Homo sapiens: one gene and its partners. The gene in region 3 interacts genetically with the main gene of each other region. Each region holds a gene or a part of one and is shown on either strand. Other genes may lie near its edges.

What was found.
Region 1: changes in ACACA (region 3) and PROCR together harm fitness less than expected from each alone (positive genetic interaction), as found in Homo sapiens cells (one large-scale study listed by BioGRID).
Region 2: changes in ACACA (region 3) and PMPCB together harm fitness less than expected from each alone (positive genetic interaction), as found in Homo sapiens cells (one large-scale study listed by BioGRID).
Region 4: changes in ACACA (region 3) and KIF2B together harm fitness less than expected from each alone (positive genetic interaction), as found in Homo sapiens cells (one large-scale study listed by BioGRID).
Region 5: changes in ACACA (region 3) and SLC35B2 together harm fitness more than expected from each alone (negative genetic interaction), as found in Homo sapiens cells (one large-scale study listed by BioGRID).
Region 6: changes in ACACA (region 3) and AURKA together harm fitness more than expected from each alone (negative genetic interaction), as found in Homo sapiens cells (one large-scale study listed by BioGRID).
Region 7: changes in ACACA (region 3) and CLCC1 together harm fitness more than expected from each alone (negative genetic interaction), as found in Homo sapiens cells (one large-scale study listed by BioGRID).

The regions. Positions count from the first base shown.
Region 1 is NC_000020.11:35,170,785-35,174,871, reverse strand, and holds the start of PROCR (endothelial protein C receptor precursor), read right to left. Parts: upstream 2,801-4,087; 5' UTR 2,784-2,800; coding exon of another isoform or gene 2,718-2,783; coding exon 2,648-2,717; intron 171-2,647; coding exon 1-170. UniProt on the Homo sapiens protein: Binds activated protein C. Enhances protein C activation by the thrombin-thrombomodulin complex; plays a role in the protein C pathway controlling blood coagulation.
Region 2 is NC_000007.14:103,303,935-103,307,434, forward strand, and holds part of PMPCB (mitochondrial-processing peptidase subunit beta isoform 1 precursor), read left to right. Parts: coding exon 1-106; intron 107-476; coding exon 477-556; intron 557-3,500. UniProt on the Homo sapiens protein: Catalytic subunit of the essential mitochondrial processing protease (MPP), which cleaves the mitochondrial sequence off newly imported precursors proteins. Preferentially, cleaves after an arginine at position P2.
Region 3 is NC_000017.11:37,396,837-37,400,336, reverse strand, and holds part of ACACA (acetyl-CoA carboxylase 1), read left to right. Parts: intron 1-3,500. UniProt on the Homo sapiens protein: Cytosolic enzyme that catalyzes the carboxylation of acetyl-CoA to malonyl-CoA, the first and rate-limiting step of de novo fatty acid biosynthesis.
Region 4 is NC_000017.11:53,821,448-53,825,693, reverse strand, and holds KIF2B (kinesin-like protein KIF2B), read right to left. Parts: upstream 2,768-4,246; 5' UTR 2,661-2,767; coding exon 639-2,660; 3' UTR 501-638; downstream 1-500.
Region 5 is NC_000006.12:44,254,729-44,258,815, forward strand, and holds the start of SLC35B2 (adenosine 3'-phospho 5'-phosphosulfate transporter 1), read right to left. Parts: upstream 2,801-4,087; 5' UTR 2,683-2,800; coding exon 2,672-2,682; intron 2,561-2,671; exon of another isoform or gene 2,454-2,560; intron 2,151-2,453; coding exon 1,957-2,150; intron 1,769-1,956; coding exon 1,614-1,768; exon of another isoform or gene 1,610-1,613; intron 917-1,609; coding exon 1-916. UniProt on the Homo sapiens protein: Probably functions as a 3'-phosphoadenylyl sulfate:adenosine 3',5'-bisphosphate antiporter at the Golgi membranes.
Region 6 is NC_000020.11:56,372,053-56,375,215, forward strand, and holds part of AURKA (aurora kinase A), read right to left. Parts: intron 1,505-3,163; coding exon 1,356-1,504; intron 1-1,355. UniProt on the Homo sapiens protein: Mitotic serine/threonine kinase that contributes to the regulation of cell cycle progression.
Region 7 is NC_000001.11:108,932,485-108,935,984, forward strand, and holds part of CLCC1 (chloride channel CLIC-like protein 1 isoform 1 precursor), read right to left. Parts: intron 2,459-3,500; coding exon 2,186-2,458; 3' UTR 2,141-2,185; exon of another isoform or gene 2,136-2,140; intron 2,062-2,135; exon of another isoform or gene 18-2,061; 3' UTR 1-17. UniProt on the Homo sapiens protein: Anion-selective channel with Ca(2+)-dependent and voltage-independent gating. Permeable to small monovalent anions with selectivity for bromide > chloride > nitrate > fluoride.

The DNA of each region.
Region 1 (4,087 bases), on a different chromosome or scaffold from region 3:
CGCCCAGCTCTCGGGCTCCTGCAAGGGCTGCAGCTGAATGATCGTGGTGTTGGTGTCTGGGCCTTCCAGCACGTGCGTTAGGTGTCCCCCCAGCGACGCGTTGCCCTGGTACCACACGTGATAGGGGTCGCGGAAGTAGGAGATCTGGAGCATATGAAGTCTTTGGAGGCCTGCGGGCAGAGTCAGCTTCAGCCTGGGCCGGCGTGGGAGGGGGCGGCGGGCAGCGGAAGATAATAACCCCCTACCTCGAGGCTGGCCGCCCGCCTTCTCGACCCTTCATAAACTATAATGTGCCCTCCCACCGCTTCTCCCGTTTGACGCTGACAGTAACTCTGCCAGGAGGACAGGACAGGGATTATTATCTCCGTTTTACAGATGAGGAAACTGAGGCCTGCAGTGGAAGAGACACTCCTTTCTGCCTCCTTTTTCACCCTCGGCTCTCCCTCCCCCCGTTTCCTGTTAACCAACGGAACAAATGGTTAACAAATCCTGACCTGAATAAAATTCCAATTCCATCGCCTGTTCTCCATCTCCTCTTCCACTGCCCTGATTCAGGATTCATCCGTCTCATCTAGACTGGGGTAGTAACTTTCTACTTCATCTCCCCGTTCTCTATTCCGACCTCCACCTGACCCAGGGATGAGATCATGTCCTTTTCCTACTTAAAATCTTCCAGTGCCATAACCCCCTCCCCTTCATTAATCAAAAATAATCATAGCCAATGTCGATTCAGTGCTTATTATAACCTGGGCAATGGGCTTTACATACATTATTATCTTTGTGCCTTTCCCCAGTGGCTTAATGCAATAGCTACTATTATTAACCCCAGTCTACATGGGAAACTGAGACAGAGATAGTGTAGCAGAGCCAAGGTTTGCACGTAGGCAGTCAAGTCCAGCACTCAGCCATTCTGCTACACTGCCTCCCCACAGGATCAAGTCCAGAGTCTTTAGCCTGGCATTCAAGGCTGCTAGAGACCTGGCCCCTGCTGCCTTTTCTGGCCGCTTCCCGCTGCTTATATATCAAACTAGTTGGGATTCCTCATGCTGCCTTTGGCTGACACATGAATAGCATGTCAGGATTGCTCTGCCTCCCTTTTTCTGCCTGGCGAAGTTTATTCATGATTTAAGACCCAGCTCAGAGACTGGGCGCGGTGGCTCATGCCTGTAATCCCAGTACTTTGGGAGGCCGAGGCGGGCGGATCACTTGAGGTCAGGGATTCAAGACCAGCCTGGCCAACATGGCGAAACCCCATCTGTACTAAAAATACAAATATTAGCCAGGCGTGGTGGTACATGCCTGTAGTCCCAGCTACTCAGGAGGCTGAGGCAGGAGAATCGCCTGAACCTGGGAGTTGGAGGTTACAGTTAGCTGAAATTGTGCCACTGCATTCCAGCCTGGGTGACAGCACAAGACTCCATCTCAAAAAAAAAAAAAAAAAAAAAAAAGAAAAAAGAAAGAAAAGCAAAGAAAAAAAGACCCAGCTCAGTTGCCCTCTTCTTGGAAATTTTTTTCTGATGCCCCACGAGACACAGTGTGTCTGTTTCAGTGATCCCAGACCACCATATATTAGTGTGTATCTCACGGGATACTACCTGGCTGTCTCCAAACACACACAGGCCACACTGGACTCCTCTAGGCTATGGAACCATGCTTGGTAATCTCTGCTTCCTACACCCAGAAAAGAGGCTGGCACAGAGTTGATGCCCAGAGCACATTTGGATGAGTCCGGGGTTGTAAATCTGTGTGTGTGAGTGGGTCCTGTCTGTGTTTGCATTTGAGAAGTTGTGCTTTGTATCTGCAGATGTGAATAAGTATATTTATGGATAACCCTAGACATGGTCCTTAACTACTCTGTGACCCAGTTTCCTCCTCATAAAATGGAGATAGTAATAATATTACCCACCTTTAGGGGTTTGTGCAAGTTAAATGGGTCAATACATGTATTAACCATAGTGAGCACTCATTGAATACTGGTTATTATTTGCTGCCTCTCTGAGGGGGAGACTGAAGTTACGGGGATTGTGAGAGAGGGGAAAGGAGGCCCCTGTGCAATTATAATGGAGGGTAATAACTCCCTTTTCTGCTTAAACAGGGCCACTTCAGTAGCCTGATCGCCCATAAGTTCTATTAGGCACAGCATCTCTTTCTCCCCAGTTCCACCAGCTGCGACCAGTCTCCTTCCATTTTCCCTAGCCTCCCCTAACCTCTCTCTGCCCCACTCTTCCCCCACTTCTTCCATCAGTTTTCCCAGGGTCTTCCCATTCCCTCCATTTCTCTTCTCTTCTGAGCCTCTTCCCGTCTCCCCTAGATGTACCCCTATCTACCATCACCCTCAGTTCCCCTTTCTCCCCTCTCCCTGGGGCTGATTCTCCTACCCTCTCTGCTGGTTTCTTTCTCATGTTTCCAGTCATCCTGTTTCCCCTAGCCTCTTTCATCTCCCCCTTTTCAGGGGCTTAAATGTACTAACTCACCTTGGCTTTGGGACACGAACCAGTCCCCAAGACTCTGCCTGCCCTGTAGAGAGATCTAGCCAGCTGCAGACACAGATGCTGTGAGATAAGCTCTCCTGTGGTCTTGCCATGTGCCCAGATAGACTGAGATTCTCCAGAACCATCCTGAGGCAGGAGATGTGCCCCCGACTCACCATCTGAGGCGTCTTGGCTACAAAAGGCCCAGCCAGACAGCAGCAGTATCGGCAGCAATGTTGTCAACATCCTGAAGTTGAGGCTCCGGACCTGGGTTCCTGGCTCGGGCCGGCTGCGGGCTCCGCTGGCTGCAGTCTAGGGAAAAGAGAAGTGAGGACCGTCTGGGAGGGGCGGAGTCTGGGCAGAGGAGGATGGAAGGAGGCCAGGAGATGGGAGGAGGAAGAGGCTTATAAAGTGTTATTTCTACTGTGTCTCATTTCCTACTAGGGGGCCGGCCTCCCTCCTGCCCTCCCTCTGCCCCGCCCTTCATTGCTCCCTCCTGCCCAGACCTGCCTTTTCCCTTCTCCTTGGGCTGCTTCCTAGGAACCAGGAACAGGGAGCGGAAAAGGGGGAGAAGGGCTTGGTGAGAAGTCCTGCCGGCGCTGACTCAGGGGGTGGGGCATCTACTTTCAACTTAGAGCACACTCCTGGGAGTAGGATCAGCAGGTTGCTGATGGGGAGATTGAGGTCCAGAGAGGTGCAGGGACTTGCCCAAAGTTTATATATCATGGTGGTGACAGATCCAAGATTAAAATTTAGTTTTCCAGTATAATGGCTACATTTTACCAGAATTTTAAGTAAATAACAATTACATAATCCGGGATCTTGGTCTCAGAAGTAGTCATAAAATGAGTGTAAAGCAGTTCACTGCAGCATGTTTTTAAAAAATAGGAGAGAATTATGAGCAATCTGTATAAATCTCAGAAGATGATTGGTTACCTAAAGCAATCTTTTTGAAACTGAGGTCATAATTTATTAGTGGACAATGAAATCAATTTAGCAGGTCATGGTTACCATTTTTAAAAAATGAAATAGGACAGAATACAAAATTTCAGCGCGTCACCCTTAGTAAGAGAAAGTGTTATGTCATGAAATATTTGCTCAGTTGTATATGTGTGCTTTGGTTTTGTGTGTGTATGTTTCTATGATGAGTTTTGGATAGCAGTGTAAAATGCGTCCCTTACTCTAGGAAGCAAGTAGAAAAGCTTTAAAGTCACTCCTCCGAGCATGCTGCTGGCACTTTGGGAGGCCGAGGTGGGCAGATCACTTGAGGCCAGGAGTTTGAGACCAGCCTGGCCAATATGGCGAACGTCTCTACGAAAAATACAAAAATTAGCTGGGCATGGTGGTGCATGCCTGTAATCCCAGCTACTTGGGAGACCGAGGCATGAGAATCGCTTGAACCTGGGAGGTGGAGGTTGCAGAGGGCCGAGATCACACCACTGCATTCTAGCCTGGGTCATGCGGCAAGATTCTGTCTGAAAAAAAAAAAGAAAAGATTTCACTTCTGTTCAAATAATACATATGTAATTTCATCCTCATATATATATATAAAATTTATTATTATTTTTTTGAGACAGGGTCTAGCTCTGTTGCCCAGGCTATAGTGCAGTGAAGCA
Region 2 (3,500 bases), on a different chromosome or scaffold from region 3:
AAGTTGAAACCAATTTACAAGAAGTTGTTTTTGATTATCTTCATGCCACAGCTTATCAAAATACTGCACTTGGACGGACAATTTTGGGACCAACTGAAAATATCAAGTAGGTATAACAGAATTTCTTGGTGTATAAGGGAATTTATGAATGTTGAAAATAAACATTTACAAATTTTCAAAAAGTATGTTTCAGAAAGTAATTTTCCCCCTGGTAATCTAAGTGAAACTGTAGTTAGCTACATTTTAGTCCCACCTAGCTCCCAAGCACGTGAGTTCATAGGTACTTCGGGAATAAACCAGTAATGGTGTATTTTTTCTTTGATGTAAAAAAGGTGAAGTTCTTTGATGTGTTGCCTGTATCCTATTTCTGACTGCATTTTAGGATACAGTTATGGTCCAATTTGATTTCAGGTATATTATGTGAAGATCTGTTTTTTTTTTGGTTTCCTTTAAAAATTGTTTTACTTCATTTACAGATCTATAAGTCGTAAGGACTTAGTGGATTATATAACCACACATTATAAGGGGCCAAGAATAGTGCTTGCTGCTGCTGGAGGTTAGTCAATTTAAATTTCTACAAATGTTTTAAACACAGTTGTTGGAGTGGTATGCTTATTAGTTTGATCCTGTTGGGAGATACCCTAAGAATTTTCATTTACATAGCAAATAACTGATAGTGTGTAAGGGGAATGTGGAGCACTGGAATCAGAATTTCCCTCTATTTTTTTTAAAGTAGGTTTCATTTAGGCCAGGCATGGTGACTCACACCTGTAATCCCAGCACTTTGGGAGGCCGAGGTGGGCGGATCACGAGGTCAGGAGTTCAAGACCAGCCTGACTAATATGGTGAAACCCCATGTCTACTAAAAATACAAAGTAGCTGGGCGTGGTGACATGCGCCTGTAGTCCCAGCTACTCGGGAGGCTGAGGTAGGAGAATTGCTTGAACCCAGGAGGCGGAGGTTACAGTGAGCCAAGATTGCACCACTGCACTCCAGCGTGGGCGACAGAGTGAGACTGTCTCAAAAAAAAAAAAGAAAAGTAGGTTTTATTTATAGAAAGACTTAATGAACTGTTCAATACATAAGCGTACATAGTAGAACGTGCAAGAAAAGGGCAAAGGAGTGAACTGGGAGAGAGTCGGAAGATGGTGTTCTGTACTTTGAGAATTTTTTGAGATTTTAAATTATTTCTTGAGAACCAACTTCGTCCTTGTTCAAGCATGGAACGGGTATGTTCATTCTTTGATTTGTTCAATCATTCATTTAATAGATCTAATTTTTGGGAAGGAGAAGCACATAGGGAGCCATAAGAATGTTGAATGGGAATCCAAACATGCAGGTGACTTCAGAAGGTTTCCTTGAGGTCATGTTTGAAGCCAGTGAATGAAAAAAAAAATTGACAACAGATATTGCCAGATTTCCTGGCAGTCTGAATCTAGACAGCAGTACATTTTAATTGGTTTCCAGTTTTTTATTTTTTTCTTTTTAAAATACATTTATAGAAATAGAGATGGATTCTTAACTATGTTGCCCAGGCTGGTTTCAATCTCCTGAGCTCAAGTTATCCTTCCACCTTGACCTCCCAAAACTTGGGGATTACAGGCGTGACCCACCGCACCTGGTCTCCAGTTTTCATTTCTTTGTATTTTTTAATATTAGAGCAAAGCGAAGTGTTCTTTCGTGTTGTAAATTTTTCTCTTTTTAGAGATCATAATTTAAAAATTCTAGTTGCTCTGGATTGATTTCTGAGCTAAGTACCTGGCGGGTAATGGAGAAGATGAAAACATTAAATATCAAACATGTTATTCATTGTAGCTACCTTCATTGTACATGGCAGGAAGTGCACTCTGAAATTCTCTTGAGTAACATTGTTTCTAAATTGGCTCTTGCAGACTTGGGCTTAAGTGTTTGAAACTGCCTTGGAAATGGGACAAGAGACTTGTTAGATGGGTCCTCAACAACCAAGCTTTCTGGGACCTCTCTGCCATTGTTGGTGGCATGTGGACAAAATGAGTTTTACTTTGGTTCATGGGTTCATTTTGACATAGCTAAAATTGAGATATCTTTAGTTTAATGGCTTATAGATTAATTAGTATTCATTTTAAATACTACATAAGTGATGTGCCTTATAAATGATTGCATCTTAAATTCAATGAAATAGGCCAGTTTTAAGTTTCTGCTGACCTCTGAATTATGTCTTGGCTACCATTTATCTCTTCTAGGCTAATCATCAGGATGTATAGCTTTTATTTGCCAAATAGTTTTTTGTATCCTAGCTTCATTTATTATAAAATTATAATTTAACATTTTAATTGTAAATTAAGTTAAAGAATCTTAATTTGGGTCTCAAGTAAGGGATATAGAGTCTAAGTAATTCCTGAGTTTTTGCATTTGGATACCTATTGATGTATTCAGAAATTTAGATGACACTATTTTGTTCCTGAGTTCTTTTTTTTTTTTTTTTTGAGATGGAGTTTTGCTCTTATTGCCCAGGCTGGAGTACAATGGCATCATCTTGGCTCACCGCAAACTCCGCCTTCCGGATTCAACTGATTGTCTTGCCTTAGCCTCCCGAGTAGCTGGGATTACAGGCATTTGCCATCACACCTGACTAATTTTGTATTTTTAGTAGGGATGGGGTTTCTCCATGTTGATCAGGCTGGTCTACCTCTACCTCTGACCTCAGGTGATCCGCCTGCCTCAGCCTCCGAAAGTGTTGGGATTACAGGCGTGAGCCACCACACCAGGCCCTGTTCCTGAGTTCTGATAGCAGAGCATGGAGAATAAAGTTTATCTGTGTATCCAGCTTTCTTTTATTTATTTAATTTTATTTATTTTAGAGACAGAGTCTTGCTCTGTCACCCAAGTTGGAGTGCAGTGGTGTGATCTCAGCTCACTGCAAACTCCACCTCCTAGATTCAAGCAGTTCTCCTGCCTCAGCCTCCTGAATAGCTGGGATTATTACAGGCGCCTGCTACCATGCCCAGCTAATTTTTGTATTTTTAGTAGAGACAGGGTTTTACCATATTGGCCAGGCTGGTCTTGAACTCCTGATCTCAAGTGACCTGCCCACCTTGACTTCCCAAAGTGCCGGGATTACAGGTGTGAGCCATGGCACCCGGCTTTTAAAATTTATTTTATTGAGACAGAGTCTTGCTATGTTGTCCAGGCTGGTCTTGAACTCCTGAACTCAAATGATCCTCCCACCTCAGCCTCCTAAAGAACTGGGATTATAGGCGTGAGCCACCATGCCCAGCTCCAGCTTTTTAAAAATTAGATAGAGCCCATATTTGTATTTTCCACTAAAAAATTTTTTTTTTGAAAATTGGCATTTTTTGCTAGTTTGGATCCCAGAGGTTTTTATAATTTAATAGAAAATGATTTTGTAAAACGTGGAGTTTTCAAGTTGTCTTATTCTTAGCTGTGAATCCATTGGTCTGTTGATGAAAACTGTCATTTGCTCTACAAAATGAGAAAGCTGTGCAACCTCAAGCTTTGCA
Region 3 (3,500 bases):
ACCAGCCTGGCCCACATGGTGAAACCCCATCTCTACTAAAAATACAAAAATTAGCCAGGCGTGGTGGTGCATGCCTGTAATCCCAACTACTCAGGAGGCTGAGGCATGAGAATCACTTGAACCCGGGAGGCAGAGGTTGCAGTGAGCCAAGATTGCATCACTGCACTCCAGCCTGGGCAACAGAGCAAGACCCTGTCTCAAAAACAAAAACAAACAAACAAACAAAAATATATATATGCTTGAAAATTGCTAAGAGAGTAGATTTTAGTTGTTCTTACCACACAAAAAAATAAGTATTTGCGGTAATGGGTATATATTTGAGGTAATGGATTTGTTAATTAGCTTGATTTAGCCATTCCACAATGAGTACATCTATCAACACATGTTGTACATCATGAATATACACAATTTTTATTTGCCAAAAAATGTTTAAATATGCCATAAGTAAATTAAATAAAATAAATTTCTTAGAACATTATTTATAAAAATAAAGCAAAAAACCAGATCTGTCCAAATATAACTAATAAACTGACTCTCATTATTTAACACTCAAGAGTTGGCTGGCATCAGGATTTTCATAATACCATGGCCATTAAACAGTTTTCGTGAATCCAGGCCTTCGTTACCCATCTCTTCTGCTTCTTCCTCACCTTACTGACTTCTTTCTCATGTACACAGAGTGCGGAATATCTGTCTCATGAGTCACCAGCCTTTGGGCAGAACCCAAAAAATTAGGTGAACTAGAAATATATTGTTGCTAAGTGGCTCGGTTTATCAGACAATTCTAAAATGCCTACTAGGCTGCCTAGCTGCATACTTTTCTGCCTAATGTACAGGACCTCCATCTTGTGACTGTCAAAACAGGCTCCTAAATTATTTTGCATCATTTGGTGACAGGCAGTCTATACTCTTGTGCAACCAACAGGTGCCCAATAAATGCTTGGAATATGCAAGGAACTTGGCATTGTTTAATATAATTGAAAAAGCAAGCATGGACTTTGAAACTTTCCTGAATTTGAATTCTGTCTCCACTCCTTATCACCTTTAAGAATTTAGGGCCTGGTGCGGTGGCTCATGCCTATAATCCCAGCACTTTGGGAGGCTGAGGCGGGTGGATCACTTGAGATCAGGAGTTCGAGACCAGCCTAGCCAACATGGTGAAACCCCATCTCTACTAAAAATATAAAAAATTAGCCGGGCATGGTGGTGCATGCTTATAATCCCAACTACTTGGGAGGCTGAGGCAGGAGAATCGCTTGAACCCAGGAGGCAGAGGTTGCCGTGAGCCGAGATCCCACCATTGCACTCCAGCCTGGGCAACAAGAGTGAAACTCCATCTAAAAAAAAAAAAGAATTTAGGGAAGTTATTATCTTCCTGCATCTCCTTTCTCCTCCTATGTAAAATGAAAATAATAATGTCTAATTCATAAGCGTTTCATAAGGATATGATGAAAGCCCGATGCAGTAGCTCACGCCTGTAATCCCAGCACTTTGAGAGGCTGATGTGGGTGGGTCACTTGAAGTCAGTAGTTCGAGACTAGCCTAGCCAACATGGTGAAACCCTGTCTCTACTAAAAATACAAAAACTAGCTGGGCATGGTGGCAGGCGCCTGTAATCCCAGCTACCCGGGAGGCTAAGGCAGGAGAATCGCTTGAACTCAGGAGACTGAGGTTGCGGTGAGCTGAGATCGTGTCACTGCACTCCAGCCTGGGCAACAGTGCCAGACTCTGTCTCAAAAAAAAAGCCCGGGCATGGTGGCTCACGCCTGTAATCCCATAATCCCAGCACTTTTGGAGGCCAAGGTGGGCGGATCACCTGAGGTCAGGAGTTCGAGACAGCCTGACCAATATGGAGAAACCACATCTCAACTAAAAATACAAAATTAGCAGGGCATGGTGGCGCATGTCTGTAATCCCAGCTACTCGGGAGGCTGAGGCAGGAGAATCACTTGAACCCAGGAGGCGGAGATTGCAGTGAGCTGAGATTGCACCGTTGCGTTCCAGCCTGGGCAACAAGAGCGAAACTTCGTCTCAAAAAAAAAAAAAAAAAAAAAAGTGATACCACAACAGCTAGAAGAGGAGGCCAAACTGTTTTTTTTTTTTTTTTGAGACAGAGTCTCGCTCTGTCACCCAGGCTGGAGTGCAGTGGTGCGATCTCGGCTCACTACAACCTCCGCCTACCTGGTTCAAGTGATTCTCCTGCCTCAGGCTCCTGAGTAGCTGGGAGTACAGGCGCGCGCCACCACGCCCAGCTAATTTTTTGTATTTTTAGTAAAGACGGGGTTTCACAGTGTTAGCCAGGATGGTCTCAATCTCTTGACCTTGTGATCCACCTGCCTCGGCCTCCCAAAGTGCTGGGATTACAGGAGTGAGTCACCGCGCCCAGCCCCCATTTTACATTTTTTTATTTGTGCCCACTGCCTTTTTTCAGAGGATGCAGTTAGCAATTTCAGCCACTGGATGGTGCAAATTCACAAGAGTCCAGTGAAAGTTCCTCAATTACGGTCCAAGGTGCACCTGTTGCTACACTGCACCAAGTGAAGGAGGGTGGGGTAAAGGAAAGACTTTTTGGATCTGAAATTTCAGTATAAACATGGATCGAAGTTCACTAGAAGTTCAGATTGAGGGAAATTTTTAGAATTTGATCACTGACAAATCAGGTCATTGAATAAGGAAAGACAAAAGAAAAGTGTTGTAATAATGAAGAGGAAGAGAAAAAGGAACAGATGATGAAATATGAGGGAAAATAAGTCTAAAGAGATGAATTCAAGTGTTAGCAACAATTATAGTATGACCCTTTACTGGTTTGCATCTCCCTGGTAACTGATAGCAACTTTGATATAAAAATAAAGCTTACTTCATTCTCTTCTAGAAAGTCAGCTATGCTACCCTTAGCTTATCCATTTGGTGGTGTGACATTATCAACAAATATTTTTAGTATCTGCTATGAACATGGTGCTTTGTTGATACAAAGTAATATAGAGATATACAAATTAACACAGATACTGGGCTTCAAGCAGAAGAACCAGTAAGTACATATAAGAAGATAAGTAATTGACTGGATTAAGAAAATGTGGCACATATACACTATGGAATACTATGCAGCCATAAGAAAGGATGAGTTCATGTCCTTTGTAGGGACATGGATGAAGCTGGAAACCATCATTCTGAGCAAATATCGCAAGGACAGAAAACCAAACATCGCATGTTCTCACTCATAGGTGGAAATTGAACAATGAGAACACTTGGACACAGGGCTGGGAACATCACACATCAGCGCCTGTCGTGGGGTGGGGGGATGGGGGAGGGATAGCATTAGGAGAAATACCTAATGTAAATGACGAGTTAATGGGTGCAGCAAACCAACATGGCACATGTATACATATGTAATAAACCTGGACATTGTGCACATGTACCCTAGAATTTAAAGTATAATACTACTACTACTATTACTAATAATAGGGAAGATAAGTAATTCAAGGCAACCTGAGGGCCATTGT
Region 4 (4,246 bases), about 16 Mb from region 3:
GGTAGGTCTGTGGTCTTTTGGGAATCACACTACACAACAGAAGGCAAGCTGGCAGTGAGCGGGCATTACCGCCTGAGCTCCCCCTCTTGTCAGATCAGCAGGAGCATTAGATTCTTACAGGAGCATGAACCCTATTGTGAACTGTGCATGTGAGGGATATAGGTTGTTGCATGCTCCTTAGGAGACTAATGCCTGATGATCTGAAGTGGAACAGTTTCATCCCCAACCCCACCCACGGAACAACTCCCTTCCACAAAACCGGTCTGTGGTGTCAAAAAGGTTGGGGACTGCTGCTGTACACTTTAGAATGCTTAGCAGCATTTCTGGTCCTCAAACTACTGTATGCCAGTATCCTCATCACCCCCAGTTGTGACAATCAAAAATGTTTCCAGACATCGCCAAATGTCCTGGTAGGGGGTGGGGAGGAACCATTCCCTGTTGAAAACTATAGTTCAGCAGGATGAAAACAAACTACAGAAATACAGAGGCAGAAGAAAGAGCATGTTTCCCATCAGTGTATTTTAAGATGTTTTAAGCTTCTCAGGAGGATCTTTAGATAATTTGGACAGTTTTCCTGTATAAGAGTGGTGGAAACTGCAGCAATGCAGCATTTCGGACCTGATCTCTCGCCATTGGCTTCACTCTACCTTGCTCTTCACGTGGAGGTCAGCTAGTAATAATTTCAGTTTCTTTTGGATCTCGGTCAGAGCATCAATTTTCTGCTCCAAAATGGACAAAGACCGGGCAATGCAAAAATCAATATCATGGTGTACTCCACCAGCTCTCTCCTGGATGTTTTCCAGCCATTGGCTAGATCCCTTCCCTGAAATTGTGGTATCCTTCCCTAACAGAGTGGGTAATGTTTCAACCTCTTCAATCTCTTTCTGCTCCTCACTCTGTACATAAGGTATTTTAATAAATTCATCCCTCTGAAGGGACATTTCTGAATTTCCGATGTGACTTTTTAACATCCTTGGTGCCTCATGTCCAATCGGATAGTGGCCACGATGGTAGGGCCTTACATCTACATTTAATTTTTTTACTCTGTTTGCATATCTTAAAGTGTTGAGAGTGTTTTCACAAGAGGTCATCCCCGGAGAGATGGTAGCAATCATGCAAGTGGAGGAGTTCTGGCCTATAAAGGAGTCCCGGAGCACCAGTGTGAGTTTGCTGGCTCTGAATGGGGTGTGAGGCTTGTTCTGACCCAAAGCCAGAATACATTCTTTGAGGGCTAGAAGACTCTTGTTAATCTCTGCCCCTTCCAGCTGCCTTTTCCGGCTGGCCTTGGTTGTATCTGCTCCTCTTTCATTCCCAGCTAAATCAACGAGGGAAAACTTGCCATGCATTATCCGTCCTGACTTCAGGATGATCTGGAACACTGCATGGCTCCTGGATGAGTGAGCGTTGACAGGTGTTTGCCTGGAAGTCCGACAGCTATTCCCTATTTCCACCAGGTTCAGCACTTCCTCCACACAACACACCTCTTTCTCCTGCAGCCCGACCACTTGGATTTGCTGATTGCCATCCTCAAGGACTTGCAGCTTCTTCTTCCAGTTCAACAAATCATACACCTTGCCCCCATAAATCTCAAAAAATGTCCCATAGACTTTGAGGTCCAGCTTCTCATATGTGGAGTTTCTGAGCAGGAGAAAGACATCCTGTGCCACCAGAGCATAAATGCCCTTAGAACAATCTTGGGCCGTTCCTGAAAAGTCTCCACCCATGGTGTACGTCTTCCCACTTCCCGTCTGCCCATAGGCAAAGCAGGTGGCCATGCCCTTGCGGAAGATGGACTCCACCAGTGGCTGGGCGGTGAACTGGTACACCAACTCGTTGGAGGCTTTGTCATCGAAGGCATGGTCGAAGCAGAAGGTCTGGTTCTGCAGGTAGCGAGTGAGGTCCACCTTTTGCTTGGACTCATGCACCATAACCACATTGTCCGAGGGGACGGTGATGATATCCAGGTCCTTTAAGGTTGTCTCTCGCTGGTTGAGAGGCCGCTTCCTCACGCAGACGCAGATGCGATGTTCTTGCGGGGGCTCCAGGACTGAGATCTTGCTGCTGTCCAGGTGCCTGCGATACTCTTCGATCATGTGCATGATTTCGTAGTTGGGGTTTCTGGTATTGACATCGAGGGCGCGTCTAGCTCGGATCTCCTGCTGCAGCCGCCTGCGCTTTTCCCGCTGCTCCTGCAGTTTCTGGATTTCCCAGAGGCAGGGAGACTTTTTCTGCTTCATCAGACAAGGTTTGCTGGGGACCCTCACATCCAGGCTGTCCCCTGAGGCTGTTTGGTTTTTCTGGGGGATCATCGCAACCCATTTCGTGGCGGTACGCTGGTCCCTGATGGCCGAAGAGGGCGCCAGAGCCAAGGGGGATAAGGGCGGGGGCGGCATGGGGTGTTCAGCAGAGTCCAGAGCTGGATTCAGCAGGAGTATGGTCTCCAGGTCAATCTTCTTGCCTTTTTTGACTGCTTTCTCCACCCACTCTACCGTGACCCAATAGTTTTCTCTGTTGATCTCCGTGACCACAGCGAGGTGGATCCGCTTGTCACTGCGCTGGATCGCCACGTAGATGCCCTCTTGGATGTCTCCGAAATGTGGCTTCAAGGGTTTCAGGGGCGAGAGACATGGGGATTCAGGGAGGCAGAACTGGCTGGCCATGGTGAGTGATGGAGGTATCAGGGAGCGCTCCAGGGCCCTTGGGGTTGGAGCAGCAGGACCCAAGCCAGCCTGAAGCGCCCGGAGCACTGAGCAGGGTTGCAGTCTGTGCCTGCCTTTGTGAGCCTAGCGCGCCGGGGCCCGGACTGGGGCCACTACGTCACAAAGGGATGAGATGAGGCGGCAGAACCTAGGGCTTAGGAGTGAATGGTACGGGAGCACAAAGGGATGGAGAGATTGTTCTCTGCCAGTGAGGGTGAAGGGGTTGGAGGAGGATGTGGCGTGCTCTCCGGATCATGGCGAGAAAGAACAGGTAACAGAGAAGCAACGGGAACCATGGCGTTGAAATTTAATTTATATGTCCCGTGTACATTTATGCCTAAGCATAAAAGGAGGCCTTGGCTGGCAGTCTCAAAGCTCAGTGCTTTAATTTGAGAATTGCTATGAAGTTTCCTTAAACTTTAACTCTCCAGTGATCAGTGGGAATAGATGAAGGTAGAGCTATTTGCAAATCTCAGGACTCGATATTCAACAGGATCCCAGAAAGGCTCCTCAAACCCGCCATCTTTGTTTTTTCACCTCCTTCAAAACGTGTAACTTGTTTAAGAGTCACAACTTAAAGTTATTACAGTTTAATCGGCTTTCTCATTACAAAATCAAAATGAGTAGAATGTAGCAGGTCGTTGTGGTAATTTGCTAATATGAAACTACCTTTCGTACAGCACCTGGGTTTGCAAACACAACATGTGTATCACATTCCAAGTGGCTCTGACAGCTATAAAGTGAGTTTTGTTGTGCTGTGGTCACCACCATTTTTGAGATTAGTTCAGTAATTACCTTTCCAAACTCCTTCAGTAATTACACTTCTGGCCTCATTATCCATAATTGGGAGAGAAAGAAAAGGCATTGTGTGGAAAGAGATAATTAATCTTATACTCCCCCCACCCCTGCAGTACTTGTGTGTGTCCTTTAGAAGTTGTTAAGCAAGGCTGGAAGGCAGCTAAGACCATCGGATGCAAAAATATATTTTGCCAAGATTGCAATATTTTCATGCATAAGAATTAGCTTATAAAATAAATGACATTGACTTTTAGACAGGCCAAGCTCAGAGTAAGGGTGATGCCTTACGTTCAGCTCACTAGCAACACCCGTGCATGTTGTCTTTTGGACTGTTGAATTTTATCATAATTATAGCTCCAAAGTAACATGAAGTAGCAAGTTACAACCTTCCCTAGGAATAAGGGCCTCTATAGAAATAAATTCTACTATAAACTAACTTTTCTGTTCAGTCAGTCTAGTAAAGCTTAGATTTTGAAAAGAAGGTGGAAGGAGGATACTGGATAAATTAGATAAGTAAGCAGTGCTCATTTCAAGAGGAGGTTGTATGCAGGTGGAGGGAGAGGAGAAAGGGCTTTAGGCAATTGTCTTCTAAAAAATATCATGTTTTATTTCCCCAAATTATCAATACTTAAAGTTGTGCTTTAAATCAGTTGTTCTTTCTTGGTTTCAAGGCCATGATGTAGATATTCTTAATACACTGTATTTGTCATTAGCACTCTGTCATTCAAGTTGGAGTACAGTGGCCTGAT
Region 5 (4,087 bases), on a different chromosome or scaffold from region 3:
CAACAGGCACAGCCTTCTTTCCCCGTTGCTTTAGACGGCCCCGCGCGTAGACTCTGAGCAGGAGGGCAGCAAAGACCACAGCCACCCCCAGCCCTCCCACCACAGTGACAGTGTGGCCATAGAGAAGGCAGGAAAGAAGGATGGCAAAGGCCTGGCGGAGGGTCATGATGATGGTGAAGACGGCAGCCCCAAACTGCCCAATGGTGTAAAAGATGAAGAGCTGGCCACATGCGGAGCAGATGGAGAGTAGCAGGGCATGGGCAGCAAACTCACTGTGTCGCCCCATGAAGCGGGTTCCCTCCAGTAGGGCCCCCTGTTCTAGCAGTGAGCCCACTGTGAAGAGGCAGGAGAAGAAATTGACCCCAAACATCATCTGCACCGATGACATCTTATAGGCAAACAGGGCATCCTGCCAGTTTGAGGTGAAGCTGTCAAAAGCAATATAACCTGCCAGTAAGATGAGGCCTGAGAGTGTGGTGGCTGGGGAGCTGCGGGGCTCTGGTCCGCTGGATAGCAGAAACATGCTGACCCCAATGGAGATGAGGGTGGCTGTCAGGTACTCCCAGTGTTCGTAGCTGCGCCGAGACACAAGCTTTCCCATCAGCATGACAGGGATCACCTTAGAGGCCTTGGCCAGCACCTGGGTGGGGAAGCTGACGAACTTAAGAGCTTCGTATTGGCACCAGCTGCTAAGCACATTGGACAGGCTGGCAAAGGAGTACCGGTACATGGGTGCCCCATGCCGGGGCTGCTTGCAGAGAACACAGGAGAGGCCAGCCACAATCAGTGCCAGCACTCGGTTCATTAGCACCAGGAACTGCGAGTCCGTAAAGCGCTCACCCGGTGATGTGGCTGTGGCCCCATAGCTGCGGGTCATCACTCTTTCCTGCAGCACACCCCAAGTCAGATAAGACACCTGTTGGGGAAGGTAGAGACAAAGGAGACAATAAGCAAGATAATGAAAAGGTAGACAAAAATTGACCTCTCTCTCTTCAGGATTATGCCTAAGTGATTCAAAGGAAAATATACACTTTTTGGTTCCTCTGTAGAAGTTTCTTCTCCCCTCCTAAGTCTGGATTCACCTTGTAGGGAATCAACTGTGTGTGAAAAACCTATTCAGGGAGGCAAGAACTCTCAGAATTGGGTATCTGTAGTTCAACATGATATTCAAGGTGGAACTAGTACCCACTGCAAAATGCCATGGGGTCAGCATGTTAGCACTCTCTCACATGCAGTACTGGGGGAAGGCTGAATGGCTCCCCCACAATTTTATCAGTGGGTTTACAGTATGTGAGACACCAGTGCAGGAAGGAAGTATAATAACGGCACAGTAGAAATCACAGAGAATAGGGCAAGAGGAGTCCTCTCTTCTGCACTAGACATCTTGAAATAACAGCATGAACTTTCAGTACCAGTGCTGGAGAGGAGAAAAGGAAGAAACAAAAGGGCATTTCCCCCAAACACCTCAAAGATGGAGGTGCAGTGTGCCCCTGGGAGGAGGACACGAAACACACCAGCCAGCAAAGCTCTGGGACTGGTAAAATGGAAACCTTCACAGAATCCCTGCCCACCGGCATCCAACCCAGGAAGAGAGGCTGAGCCCACCTACCCACCTGGAGCCCTGTGGCACAGAAGAGCAGCTTCAGGGCCTGCCACATCGGGGTGGTCTCTGCCGCCTCTGTTCGGGGCGCCAGGGGAACCTCATCAGAGGCCTTGGGCTCATTGCCAAACACACAAGCTTTCACCAGGGGAAAGCAGAGGCCCCTACCTGAAGAAAGCACACAAAGTCAAGCCCCAAATCTTCTCCATAGCACTTCATCTTCCCCAGAGCAGCCAGCCTGCCCTGCTGTCCGGCCTACCGACCTCCCGCCCTCTCCAAGTCATATCCCGTTTGGACTGCTGGCCAAATACCCTCTTTCCCGACCTAGCTCACTTCCCCGCCCTTTCTTCACACACCGGTCTCCAGGTAGTTCTTCCGCCTGAAGTACTGCACCAGGAGGTAGCCAGGTACCATAAAGCTGGCATAGCCAGCAGCATTCACCACAAATCGGAAGAACCATAGCTGGGTCCATGACTCCGGAGGGGCTTCGGGAGTCTCCCCACCTGCCCCTAGGGAGGGGAACGCAGCCAGCACCACCACTGCCCACCATCTGTAAGGAAAGCGGACATAAGGATTAGGGCGCAGCTCCTCATCCCCTCCGCCCTCCAGAGGGGACCACACTGGAGTAGTGCCCGGAGTCTCCTCCCCGCCCCCTCCGCTGCAGCTCCGGCCCGGACAAAGAGCCTCTCTCTCTCTCTCTCTCTCGGGGAGGGGGTGCGCCGGCGCTGGCCAGGCAGAGCTTCCTCCCTCCCCGGGGGCGGATCCGCCCCTCTGGCCACACAGGTCTCCTCTGTTCCCTCCAACGCTAGCCGGCTGCTCAGGTCAGAGGAAGCGCCCCTTCCCCCACACTCCCCTCCACGATCCGGGACGTCAGGGTCCCCAGCCCCTCCGCCCGAAGCTCCCCAAGGAGCACAAAACCAAGCCGCAGCTCCCATCCCCGCTGGCTCCGGGCAGCGATATGCTGGCCGACGGCCGAGCAGCCGGGACCCCACCCGGCCCCCGTGCTGAGGCGCGGCAGTCACGTGGCCCGGGGGCTCGGTCACGTGAGCTCGCTGCTGCCCTAGCCCCCACCTGGCGTCCATGGTCCAGGCCGCGTGGGGTGGAGGGGGAACCGGGGAATGCGAGTCCCCGGGCCGCGCGCCCCCTGCGCTCCCGCCGCCGCCTCCAGGAGCGGCCAGCGAGCCAGCGGCCAGCGGAAGTGCCGCGCTCTTCCCGCCTCCCTCCCCGCGGCCCCCTCCGCCCCTGCCGCGACCACGCAGCGCCCCGGGCCGCCGCCGGACCACAGCGCCCCCGCGCGGCCCGGAGGCAGACGCGGCTTGGGTTCCGGGGACCTGGGCTGCCCCTGGGCGCGGGGAGCCCCAGCCCTGAAGAGGCGCCCGCCCGGCGTGTCCCCTGTGCTTCGTCATCGCCCTTCATAAGCGTCCCAGAGGTCATGGTGACCATTGCCATCTTGTGGACAGGACATTGAGGCTCTGCATCCCAAGCCGCTCCTCTGTGTTAGTTTCCCCGTTTTCTGACAGGATGAAGGTGTCTCCTTGCTTTGTTGGCTGGGTAGTAATTCTGTCCCACTTCCCATGATCTTCGAGGCTCTACATGGCCTCGCCCGCGTTCCTCGCCCACTCACTCGCCCGCTGTGAAGCCCCACTGGCTTGCTCTCAGTTCCTCTAATTCACAGGCTTTCCCCCTAATGCTCTGCCCCCATCCCTTTACTCATCCTTACATCCCAGTTGAGATGATACTCCTCAGGCGAGGGTTCCCGGACCACCCAAAGTATGACCCTCTACCGACTCCATCCTTTTCCTTCCCACTATTCTTTTCCCTTCATAGCACCCACTGCAACTTGGAAAGGCATCTTTATTTGGATGTTTATGCTTTTAACGGCTGTCTCTCTCACTGGATGAGACGCTCCAAGTGGTCAGAGACTGTGCTGGTTTATTGCCCCATGCTCTTCATGCCAGCATAGGGGTGACCTAGCAGGGCCCTCGAAGGTGAGGAACGGGGGGAAAAACGTGGAGTCAGCTCCCTCGTGCCCAGCCTCCCTGGGTTACCCTTATCCCCAGGCTCCTCCAGATGGCAACCCCCAGGGCAGTGGTGAGGGCTCCAGGGCGTGTGTCCTCTCATTCTTCCTCTTGTCCCTCCATCCCTCATCATTTCCACAGCAAGGACAAGGGTCTGTGCTGGACACAGAGAAAGGCCTGGAACTACTGGCCTCTGACCCCACCCAGCAAGGCCCTACCGTGCTCAGGGGACAATTTCCTTCTCTCTGCCTCTACCACAAAGTCACAGGGCAGGCCTGTCTAAAAAGCCCCAATGCACACAGACATGCATGCGCGCAAAACAGCTCTAGAAGGGAAAAACTTTTTTTAACGTCTCTGCCATTTTAGTGTCATGTTACTGAAACTTCCCTTCCCCAGTGGCTCAGTTCAGAGCCTTCTGTGTGAAGTCTTTAAACAACGGTGTTTCAGGGTCCTCAACAGCAATAAGATG
Region 6 (3,163 bases), on a different chromosome or scaffold from region 3:
ACGAAGGTTGGAAAAAAGCTGGGAACAGCAGACAGCAAGCCAGAACAGTCTGTGTGGGTTCGTGTTGCTTTGTTATCAGCTGCTCTTCACCATGGAGGCTTACGTGGTCACAGCCCTGGTGCTGTGTTCAGCCAGGCCTGGCACCCACTGAGCACACAAACAGTCACTCACCACTGAATTGTGACGTAGGATTAAGAAGCTACCACTCTGGTCATCTAACCCCTCCATCAGCACCGACGGACTGAATCGGGGGTTCTCAAACTGAGGCAATAACCAGGAAATGATGATGATTAACATCTGGGATTTGGAGTGAAGTGACTATCGGTTATGTAAGTAATCTTTTCAAAAAGCAAGAAGCCATCTTTTCTATCACAATTCAACCGGTTAAGATACAGTTTAACTCTGCGATTCCATGAAGCCTGTAAGTCTTTATTCTGGTTTGTCTCACCAGATAACAGCTCCCACTAATGACAACCAGTTTAAAAAAAAAAAAAAAAAAAAAGACTGCAATAGCAGATTCAGTGCATTGCTGGAACAATTAGAAGTGCTCTGTAACAAAAGCAAAGGTTTTCTCCCTCATATTCTATTTTAGGCTATACTTTTTTTTTAACTAGCTTGATTTTTAAGTCATTTGGCTATAATTTGAGTCCTCCTCCAAAGTTGACAAAACTTCATCGGTAGATATATGTTTTAAAATGCCCCACTTCATGTGAAGTTTCAAAGCTTATTTAAACTCAAATTTAAAACAGTAAAGATATTGTAGTTCACTTGGAAAGCTAAGATTTGAATTGTTTTGAGACTGACATCTCTGCTTCAGCTGTGACAGGGGATAAGAAAGGACTATCCCTACTATTGACAGAGGCAGACTGAAGAGAATCTCTCACCACTGCCCTCAAAGCACCACCAAACTAATTTAGTGTTTCAAGTTCCCTGATATGGCCTGCACTCTGAGCTCTAGATCTTTGTCAGTGCTGTCCTCTGAACCATCTCCCCATCTCCTCATCCAGGAAGCAGCAGAGGTGAAGAGTTCCTCCCACTCAACATGTGGGCACTTCACCTCTGTCATATACGTGTCCTATCTGTTGACTCATTCATCCCTTCATTAGCCTCTAAGGACATTAAGCATCTTCAACCCTAGGCCTAGAACACTGCTAATAGCCCCAAATCTCCACAGAATAACACTTTCTTGCAAACCCTAGTTTATTATTAAGCCTAAATTACTCCAAAGTACTTCTGGGTTAGCCACCTACCCCTCTTACAGCACAAAATCTACACTGAAATATTTTACATTTAGCTCACGGTTAGCTCCCAGGGCTTTGGTAAACCAAACAACTTCCACCTCTAAAGTTACATACCTGGAAGATGGAGCATGTACTGACCACCCAAAATCTGCAATTTTAAGCTCTCCAGCTGATCCAAGAAGTAAGTTCTCTGGCTTAATGTCTCTATGAATAACTCTCTTCGAATGACAGTAAGACAGGGCATTTGCCAATTCTGTTATATACTGTTAAAACAATATTGAAAGCCTATGTTTTAGATTTTATATAACACAAGTTAATATTAGACATCTCTTCCGAAAGGAACACAACATAGATTTAACATGGTTTGCAGGTTTTGGCCAGGCACAGTGGCTCACACCTATAATCCCAACACTTTGGGGGACTGAGGTGGGAGGATCACTTGAGCCCAGGGGTTCAAGACCAGCCTGGGAAACATAGCAAGACTCCATCTCTACAAAAATTTAAAAATTAGCTGAGCGTGATGGTGCATGCCTGTAGTCCCAGCTACTTGGGAGGCTGAGGCAGGAGGATTGCTTGAGACCAGGAGGTCAAAGCTGCAGTGAGCCATGATCACACTTCAGCCTGGGTGACAGAAGGAGACCCTGTCTCAAAAAGGAAAAGACAAAACAAAAAATACATTTTGCAGGTTTTAAAGCAAGGATTGTAGAAATTATATAGGAGTCTACACACACACACACACACACACACACACACACACATCAACTGAACCAATTTATAGTGGTTAGCATGAAGTGAAATTACCCAATGCTTAGTCATCTCTGCTAATACAGCTGGTGTGATGTTGAAAGTCAGAAAAGACATTCAGCCAGTTAGAGCTAGCTCTTAGGCTGGTGCCATGTCAATGCAAAACACAGTTACTTTTGCACCAACCTAAAGTTACAACACCATACGGCAACAAATGGCCCTGCAGCCAGGAAGTAAGACAGTGCTGAAGAACTGGTACAAATTAAGGATTCAGATGTGTAAATACTGCCTTTTTCTTTTTTAGAAAAAAAAAATGAACTTTGCAAGTATAGTCAATTCCCTTTTTTAAAACCAAGGTCATTCTGTGACAGAAGAATTTGTTTAAAGCTAAAAATTTACTTCAAGAATATCAGGAGAAAAAATTATCCTGAACAATAAACAGAAACTAAAAAGCAGTTGCACTGACATATTAAATAGCATGTTAAATTTTGGGTTACACTAAGTCAGCATAGAAGTACATAAGAAATCAGTCCTTTTGTTAATTTTATTTCCTTAAGTTACTATCTTTTTTTTTTTTAATAGAGATGGGGGTCTCACTATGTTGACCAGGCTGGTCTCAAACTCCTGGCCTCAAGTGATCCTCCCATCTCAGCCTCACAACGTGCTAGGATTACAGACATGAGCCACTGCACCCGACCGAATTACCATCTTGTAAGAAAAGTTTTCCTGGCCAGGTGCAGTGGTTCATACCTGTAATCCCAGCACTTTGGGAGGCCAAGACAGGTGGATCACCTGAAGTCAGGAGTTCGAGACCGGCCTGACCAACATGGTGAAACCCTGTCTTTACTAAAAATACAAAAATTAGCCAAGTGTAGTGGTGCATGCCTATAATCGCAGCTACTCGGGAGGCTGAGGCAGGAGAATTGGTTGAACCCAGGAGGTAGAGGTTGCAGTGAGCCGAGATCATGCCATTGCACTCCAGCCTGGGCAACAAGAGTAAAATTCCGTCTCAAAAAAAAGCAAGAAAAAGAAAAGTTTTACAGTCCCTATCGCTAAGATTTAGCAAACAAGTCCAGTATGTATGTATTTACTTATTTATTTTTAAGAGACAGGGTCTCACTCTGTCACCCAGCCTGGATTGCTATGGCATGATCATACCTCACTGCAGCCTTGAACTC
Region 7 (3,500 bases), on a different chromosome or scaffold from region 3:
CATCCCCAAATGGATATCTGTAATGAAAGAATACAAAGGTGAAATTTTATTTAAAAATTTTTTAAAAGAATTTGGTTTTGGATTAAAAGGCATGCAAGCAGCATTAATTCCACTCACAGTTACAGTCTATCACCTGGGGCATTCACTACTTTTCAGAGTCAGATCACAGTTCAAAAGACAGCTCTCACCTTGGGGGCATATTCCCCAAGTCAGTGTGAACATGTCTTGTCCCAAGAGGACACTTTATACGCATGGATGTTCACAAATTTATTCTAAACTGCAGGTGTCTGTCAGGATTCATTTGTTAAACATGTCCTCTGTGTTAAAAATCCTAAAATCCTTTTGCATTTCTTAGAAAAAATCACGTTTCTGATGAAATTCTAAAGATGTTTGCAATATTAAACTAGAATATATTAACATGTATAATTTTGAGACAAGGTCTTGCTCTGTCACCCAGGCTGGAGTACAGTGGCTCGATCATAACTCACTGCCACCTCACGATCCTCTTGCCTCAGCCCTCCAAGTAGCTGGGACTACAGGCGTGTACCACCATGCCTGGCTAGTTTTATTTTTAGTACATAGCCTTGAACAACTGAGCTTAAGCGATCATCCTCCCTCAACCTTCCAAAGTGCTAGGACTGTAGGCATGAGCCACTGCACCTGGCCTAAAATTACATTGTTACAGGCACGTAAGTAACACTTCCTGGATCCAAAAATGTGTATTCTGCATTTCAACAACTGAACTTAAGCGATCATCCTCCCTCAACCTTCCAAAGTGCTAGGACTGTAGGCATGAGCCACTGCACCTGGCCTAAAATTACATTGTTACAGGCACGTAAGTAACACTTCCTGGATCCAAAAATGTGTATTCTGCATTTCAACAACTGAACTTAAGCGATCATCCTCCCTCAACCTTCCAAAGTGCTAGGACTGTAGGCATGAGCCACTGCACCTGGCCTAAAATTACATTGTTACAGGCACGTAAGTAACACTTCCTGGATCCAAAAATGTGTATTCTGCATTTCATATTAAAATAAAAAAGCAAGTGCTTGGGATACAAATATCTGCATGAAAATTTAAAGACTTTATTCCTGACTGGTATCACTTTTAGTAAGCAGTTGAACATAACTTGTAGTGTGAATATGGTTAAAACAAAGGACACCTGATGTCTGTGAAGTCTGCTAAGGACAGGTACAAAATTTATGCATTGCTTTTTAAAAAGTTTAAAATGAGGAATGCTTTTGATAATCAGAAAGACTAATGTAAAGTGCTGACTGATGTCCTGTCTGCAGTTAAGGAAGACACCCAACTCTCTTCTTCCTCATCATGGTATTCTCTATGTATAGATCTCTAAAAATGCAAACTTCCTATGGACAAGACAATATGATTTGCTATAATATGAATTAAGATATGGTAATATCTAATAGTCTCCACTGCTAGGATTCTGAGTAACACAAAAAATAGGTTTTATAAAAAGCCCATGCACTTCAATTGGTGGGGGAAAAGAATAAAGTCATTTTCAGTCGACTGACTCTGTAAAACAGATTACCAATATAACAAGCTATGTTATCTAAATTGCCCTGGCAGTCTTCAGTTTTCTCTAAGTAAACAAAGTAAAAGGAACAATAAGGATGCAGGCGTAGTAATAGCTGTGGAAAAGATGAAACTACAGCCACAGTGACCTGTGGGCAGCCTGCGTAGAGATAAGCTGAGGTGTCAGTCAGACTGATCCTGGTAACGATACTCCATGGCTGCATGAAGATGCTGGAGGCATCAAGTGGGTGGCCTTAACTCTAGTGGATTCACTAGGCAATGTAAATTGGTTAGTGGGTTCCCGTAAGTGCCTGTAACAATAAAATTTCTTTTTCAATGTCCCCAATTCAAACTGGCCTCCTTAACTATCCAGAATCAGTGATGCCTGTCATCTGTTCATCTTAAAATAAACACTTCTTACTTTATGGGATGTAAATATCAAAGAGAAGATGAAATGAAAAGCTTTTACATATATAACGTGTTTGTTAATTCTAATTGTCAGTAAAAATGTGAATGTTGAAGTTGAAATGTGAATGTTGAAGTTGGCACCTTTGTAGTAATCAGAATTCTTGCAGAGAAGAGAAAGAGAGTGAAGAGTATACTTTACAAAGCTCGAAGGAGACTTGAGGCTGTCGTTTGTGCTGGTGTTCCTCTAGCCACAGGGGCTGCTGACCGGATCCTGTCCACGTGGTCCAGCCACACCTCTTGCGGGGCTGTATGTGCTGCCTTGGTCTGGGCTGCCTGCGGCTTCAGACTTGAGCTGGGCCTTTTCCGCTGCGGGTGAACCTTCTGTATTCCCTGATGTGTCTTGGCCAGAGACAGGCTTGGCCGACTGGCTGCTTTCAGTACTGCTTTCTTTCGGTGTGCCTTCCCCCAGGATTCCACCTGTCTCCTTGGGCTTTGTATCCAAAACAGGTGATTTATGCTATAAAGTACAAAATTACATTTTAACTGTTTAATGTAATGTGAAGTCTTAGTAATCAAACATATCTAAAAAGTTCCCACCCAAATCCGTTGTAGCAAGCTCCAAACTCTTTCAAATCCAGGGTCCAGTGCTGGGTTATAATTATATAAATGTTATTATACCTCACCAAACTCCACAGTACTCCCACAGAGGAGTGGGAACGCTTAGCGCATATACTGGGTGGTCTAGTGGCCCAGCTTAGAAGGGGTCAAGAGAATTGGTCATCAGTATTGTCAACTTCTCTTGCCTGGTGAGAATAATTCATTTGACAAATATTTCTTGAGCATATATTAAGTTCTAGGTGTTAGGGATACAGCAGGAACAAAATACATAAAACTGTTCTCACTGGAACTTATATTTAGGTTAGAAGAAAATCACACAAGTGTGATATGTTGAATTAAAGAGGCTATGTAAAAAAAGCAGAGAAGAGATGAGTGCTGAATGTGGGTGGGCTGGCAGGGTCAAATTACAGTTTAAATTAGGGTGGTCTGAAAAAGTGATATGGTTAGGCATGGTGGCTCACACCTGTAATCCCATAACTTTGGGAGGCCAAGGTGAGAAGACTGCTTGAGGCCAGGAGTTTGAGACCAGCCTGGGTAACAGCAAGACCCCATATCCACAAAAAATAAAAAATATTAGCCAGGCATGGTCGTATATGCCTATAGTCCTAGTTACTCAGAAGGCTGAGGCAAAAGAATCGGTTGAGCCCAGGATTTTGAGGCTGCAATGAGCTATGATCACTGCACCCCAGCCTTGACCACAGAGTGAGACCTTGTCTCCAAAAATAATAAAAATGAGTAAAGGCCTGAAGAAAGTAACCATATGATTGATATATAAATGAAGACTGTAGAATGAACAGCAGGTACAAAGGCTCTCAAGTTCAAGGAACAGTCAGGAGCCCTTATGGCTAAAGTAGAGTAAGCACGGAGGGAGAAGAGGTGACCAGAGAGGTAGTGGATGTGGGGGAAGGGGAGACCAAGGAGGCTTCCAGGCCATTGTAATA